Regions from separate parts of the Homo sapiens genome. Here region 2 is linked to region 1. The links come from fine-mapping of genetic effects on gene expression. A gene starts in region 1. The other region holds a variant in brackets. All regions are shown on one strand. Distances are from middle to middle.

Region 1 (2,909 bases):
CACGGAAATACCCTCAATGGGGAAGCACTGCTGATACTTAAATGACGATTGAAGGATTGTACGCCTGTATGCTGAGCTACAACGATGACATACGATCCCAGTTTTACATTTACGTCTTCATCAATTTGAGCAGTCGTTATGTTTCCTACTATTCTCTCCACAAGAAAGGGGGAGGTGCGTACTCCAAAAATGTGCTCAACTAAAATGTTTCCCATTTAAGGTGGTTATTTCTGGCACTAGGAAGACAGTTAAATATTTGTTAATGATTCCTTACTCATTTTTAAAACCTTCGGAGTTACCCCTGTATGGACATATATAGAGCCCCACCCACATAGCCCACGGCTGGGTATCAGCCCCCATTTCCCTTCTCTCGCCACTGCCAGTAGTCTACCAAGTGAACCTGCCTCATCCCAAAGATAATTTTGCTTCATGAGCCCACATATTTATTCTTCTTCATAATGAGTCGCTTTTGAAAAGCCCGTGCAGCAACAGCCTTGGCCAAAGGAACAGCGTTCTGCTTACAACTTAGCTCATCTGGGGGCCTATTTGCCCCTGGAACTTCAGGACGCTCCTAAACTATACTTGCCCTTCTGCAAACACCGACAGTCGGCTCGCGGCGCCCCACCGGGACGCTCCCCTTTCATGGGCTGTAAGCCCAGCACATGCTGGAGTTTAACACGGTTCCTGCTGGATGCGCACAGAAGCCCTGGAGCCAAGCAGGCGTGTGCGCGTTTGGGGCTGGCTGTGTGATGGGTTGAGGGTCGGCCGCACAGCCCACGGAAGCATCAGGAGACCAGCGCCGGCGTACGGTGCGGGCTAGGGCAGAGCCCCAGACTCACCTGGCAGCGCTGCCGGCCGGAAAGCGGAGAGGGACGCGAAGATCAGCAAATTCGCCAGTTTGGATCCTTGTCCTTTTCCGCCCTTTTCCCCCCATTAAATCCAGAACCCGTCACATGATAATTAAGAAAAAACTTCAGTTCCGCCTCCTCAAACGACTGCGGTAGAGGATCTCTCAGTTCTACCTCAGTGCCGCGCCCACATCCGGGGCTGGTTCTCACCGCCCCTGAGCCTACCCTATAGGTAGAGAGGACGCCAATCTGGATTCAGAGGTCCCTTTTCCGCGGTAATTGGACCATTTGTCCGCCAGTGCAAACCAACCGACCTTTCCTTACTTTCGGGTTCGACAGAAAGGCGGCAATAAAAAGACCCATTGGTCCCGCCTCTCTACTGTCACGGGTTAGTAGGGAAGTCAGTCCAAGATCAGCCTGGAGTTTCCGTGCTCCCATTGGGCCCACAGATGTTAATCAGAGCAGCCGGCGCTCAGCTCCGCCCTCTCGGGACGCCCCGCCCCTCCTCCCATCCTCCCTGCCCGCGCGCAGTGACTGCAGGCTCCGGCGCAAAATCCTGCGGGAGAGGGGGTGGGGCAACCCTCTGGAGGCAGCGCGCCCGCGGGCAGCCTCGTTGTGGCTCCTTGGGCTCTGTTGGCGGCGGCGCTAGCTTCGGAGTCTCCCGCGCGCACCTCAGCCGCCTCCTAGCGGCGCGGCGCTCGCTCCTACGGTAAGAGCGGCATCACCTCCGCGCTCGGGTGGGCAGTGTGGAGGTCGTCGAGTTCTGACAGAATTTCGAGGATGGATCGGGACGAGGGAGGAGAGCGGTCGTCGGGATGGAGGTGGGGGCTCCGGGGCCAACGCGTCGCCCTCCGTCGCCGGCGACTTTCCCGGCAGTCTCCCGTACCTGAGGGCCGGGGTCAGCCGCGACCCCTTCTCATCAGTCGGCCGGTGGCGGAGGCTCAGCCGCCTTCCTCCCGAGCTCGCGCGGTCCTCAAGTCTTGATGGTGACGGGCCGAAGCCCAGCGCGCCACCCGCCCCTCGGGCCCCGCTTCCAGGCCCCTGTCCTTTGCTTCCTTCCCTTGGCGCTGTGCTGAGGGGTCGTCGGGTCCTGGAAGGGCGTTCAGGGGTCTCGGGTGGCTAGCCCGGCTGGCGGGGAGATGTCAGCTAGCGGCCGGAGGAGCGGGCTCGGGAGGGGGCGGCGGCTCGCGCGCTGGAGGAGGTGGAAGGAGGGTCGCTGCCCTGCCCCCTCTGAGCAGGCGGCAGTCGAGTTTTCTGATCCCAACACGGCGGAGTGGGTGCTTAAGGCATGGGCCTTAAGGGATAGTTCCCGTCTGGAAACAATACCGTGCTCCATCAGCATGCTTCAGCTTTTCTTATTTTTATCTGCCCAGTGTTGACAGCCAGCATTCTGGTATTGTCCTTCGAGTCATGGCTTTCTAACTCAGCACCTCCTTGTGTAACTTCAGGGATCATTCTGTCACTAATCTGTCACCCTTCTTATTTTTAGCGTGGCGAAAACAAGGAACTGCCTTATACTAACCTGGGCAGTGCAGAATCTGGAACAATTTATTAATCTCAGTGTGTACTTTACATGCCAAGTAATTTTGAAATTCATGGTGAATATTAAATATTTTGTAGTTTTCGGTTGCTTTCTTTGTTAATAGTATATCCTCCTTGCTTTGAGACTACTTTTCAGGTGTGATACTTTAATCTTAAGGTTTTTGGTTAGCTTTTGCCATTTTTAAACGTTTCTTTCATTTTTTTTTTCTCCAAGACTTTGGCAAGAGACTTAGTATTTGATCTTGTTTTCAGGTATTTTTGTAAAGTTTATTTTCTTTCAAACTGGGCTTTTTTCACCATATTTTTAATATTGGAAGGGGAATTCTGAAAGTCTGGAAACTGCACACTTTAGCCTAAAGAGTCACAAAACAGTATAACAATTTGAAATCCTAACTTGGATATGGTGTATGGACTGCAAATTTTAAGAGAAGGAAATGGATATGCGTTATCAGTTGTAGTGGCTCCACCTCCATAACGTAGAGGAGAGGAATCTGGAGGTCTGCGGAGAATGAGCCATGT
Region 2 (2,909 bases), 110 kb before region 1:
TGGGCAACAAGAGTGAAATTCTGTCTCAAAAAAAAAAAAAGATGAGCAGGTCAACGTGGTGGAGGTAGAGCTTTGAGATATCTATGCCATAAGGACAGAAGAAATGTCCTTTTTTGTTTGTTTGTTTTGAGACGGAATCTCACCCTGTCACCCAGGCTAGAGTGCAATGGCACAGTCTTGCCTGGCTGTAACCTCCGCCTCCCAAGTTCAAGCGATTCTCCTGCCTCAGCCTCTGGAGTAGTTGGGACTACAGGCATGTGCCACCACGCCTGGCTAATTTTTTCATATTTTTAGGAGAGATGAGGTTTCACCTTGTTGGCCAGGCTGGTCTCAAACTCCTGACCTTATGATCTACCTGCCTCGGCCTTCCAAAGTGCTGGGATTACAGGCGTGAGCCACTGCACCTGGCCAGAAATGTCTTTAAGGTTAGTACATGGCTGCATAAAGTACAAGGGTCAAATAACTGCTTTCTTTATACAAGGGGATCAGGAACCTGGACAAGGCCAGAGGGATAGTACATGTGCAGAGTGAAAATACAGTTCAGCTCAGAAAGGCAGAAGGATGTCACGTGCAGAGAAACCAGATTCTAGGTTGTACAGAGGACAGCTCTAAGCACTGCGAACACACATTTGTTATGGCTGGAAGTTTGAATATATTCGATTAGCATCTATTCCAGCAACGGACAAAGACAGGGTTGTGAATTAAAATAAACAAAACTCTCAAAACGATCTTAACAAAACGAAGCTACTCCTTTCTAGATCAGAAGTCAGCCTGCTAGTCTGTGGGTTATAACTGACTCACAGATGTTTGTTTGGCTTGCATGGTGTTTTAGGAAACTTCCCATTAAAAAATCTATATATTTAGCAAGTAGGACCACTATTTCCATAAGGGAACGAGCAGCGAGAGCTGAGAAACACAAATGTATATTGTAGAAAACACATCATATTCCCAGTTTTCTATAGTACCCTCCACTTCCTGTGATCTCACATTCAACCTGACTCTGACTTATTATTTTTTACCCATTGCTATGGTTTCAATGTGTCCCCTCCAAAATTCAGGTGTTGAAACTTAATGGCCAATGTAATGGTATTAAGATGTGGGGCCTTTAAGACGTGTTTAGGCCAGA[G/A]GGGTTGCTCTCTTGTGAATGAGGTTTATGGGATTACAAGAGGCTTCATGGGCAAGTGGATCGCTTGAGCCCAGGAGTTTGTGACCAGCCTGGGTAACACAGTGAGGCCCCATCTCTACAAAACATAAGCAAAAATTAGCTGGGAGTTATGGCGAGTGTCTGAAGTCCTAGCTACCTGGGAGGCTGAGGTGGTAGGATCACTTTAGTCCAGGAGGTCGAGGCTGCAGTTGCGCCACTGCACTCCAGCCTGGGCGACAAAACAAGATTCTGTCAGGCCGGGCGTGGTGGCTCACGCCTGTAATCCCAGCACTTTGGGAGGCCGAGGTGGGCGGATCACGAGGTCAGGAGATCGAGACCATCCTGGCTAACACGGTGAAACCCTGTCTCTACTAAAAATACAAAAATTAGCCGGGCGTAGTGGCGGGCGCCTGTAGTCCCAGCTACTCGGGAGGCTGAGGCAGGAGAATGGCGTGAACCCGGGAGGCGGAGCTTGCAGTGAGCTGAGATCGCACCACTGCACTCCAGCCTGGGCGTCAGAGACAGATTCCGTCTCCAAAAAAAAAAAAAAAAAAAAATTCTGTCTCAAAATAAATAAGATAATAGAGGCCTCATGAAGCCTTCAGCCTGCTGCCTTCTACCATGTGAGGCCAATATGTTCCTCCCCTCAGGAGGATGTGGCCCATATCAAACAAATGAACCTGCCAGTGCCGTGATCTTGGGCTCCCAGCCCCTAGAATTGTGACAAAATAAATTTCTGTTCTTTATAAAAGACCCAGTTTCGGCTGGCTATGCTGGCTCATGTCTGTAATCCCAGCACTTTGGGAGACCGTGGTGGTCAGAGTGTTTGAGCCCAGGAGTTCTCGACCAGCCTGGGCAACAACATGGCGAAACCCTGTCTCTACAAAAATACAAAAATTAGCTAGGTATGGTGGCAAATGCCTTAGTCCCAGCTACTCGGGAGGCTGAGGTGGGGGGAATGCTTGAGCCCAGGAGGTCAAGGCTGCAGCGAGCTGTGAAGCTGCCACTGCACTGTAGCCTGGGTGATAGAGCTGAGACCTGACCTCAAAAAAAAAAAAAAAAAAAAGAAAAAAGAAAAAAAAAAGGTGGAGAAGCAGGGTGTAGGGTAGGTAGGGTAGTATGCTTTCGGTAGAGCTGTTACAGAGAATGAAATGGAAAAGGAAGCAAGAGATAACCAGTGAGTCAACAACACCAACGACTGAAAAGCAAAAAGGAATGGAGATGAGAAAAGGCACGTCGCGTTCAACAGGTCCAAGGTCCAAGAGTACCTGAAACTTGTCACTCTTCCACTGTTTCTTGGCTCAGGGAATGGTACCACTGCCAAGTTTTGCTGGTTAGAAATATAGAAGGTATTCATGATATCTGCCTCCCTTATGTTCATTATCCAAATCATCACATAGGCAACAGCCAAAGGAAAAAGCACGTCAAGTAGAGAGAATCACATATGCAATGTTTCTATGTTGAAAGACAACATGGTGGGTTCTGGAGATTAAAGACCTGTTAGTTTGAAATAGAAGAAGGGGATAGTTCATGAAAGGTCTTACAGGACACATTAAGGATTTTGTTTTTTGTCCCGAGAGCAATGAAAGCCATTGACTTCAGGTCTGAAGCAAGGCAAGAGAGATGGTCAGATCCAGGTTTTTTCGTTTTCGTTTTTTTTTTTTTTTTGAGACAGAGTCTCATTCTGTCGCCCAGGCTGGAGTGCAGTGGCGTGATCTTGGCTCGCTGCAACCTCCGTCTCCCAGATTCAAGCGATTCTCTACCA

The links. PIP is the estimated chance that this variant, and not a neighbour inherited with it, causes the effect. A credible set is the group of variants that fine-mapping cannot tell apart.
Region 2: its variant is the best candidate, but not a certain one, in a credible set for the expression of PHTF2 in whole blood (TOPMed, PIP 0.86).

What each region holds. Positions count from the first base shown.
Region 1 is chr7:77,797,415-77,800,323 of GRCh38, forward strand. It overlaps PHTF2 (putative homeodomain transcription factor 2), which reads left to right and starts at 1,359. Exons shown (of 19, transcript NM_001395272.1): 1 at 1,359-1,557. It overlaps TMEM60 (transmembrane protein 60), which reads right to left and starts at 1,020. Exons shown (of 2, transcript NM_032936.4): 1 at 840-1,020. RefSeq lists an enhancer at 780-889 and a silencer at 1,300-1,439.
Region 2 is chr7:77,689,945-77,692,853 of GRCh38, forward strand. The region is part of intron 1 of APTR (Alu-mediated CDKN1A/p21 transcriptional regulator); the gene reads right to left. Among named protein-coding and RNA genes, the nearest start is that of APTR, 4.9 kb to the right of the region's middle. RefSeq lists an enhancer at 2,124-2,623. The variant G/A (reference allele first, on the strand shown) is at 1,127.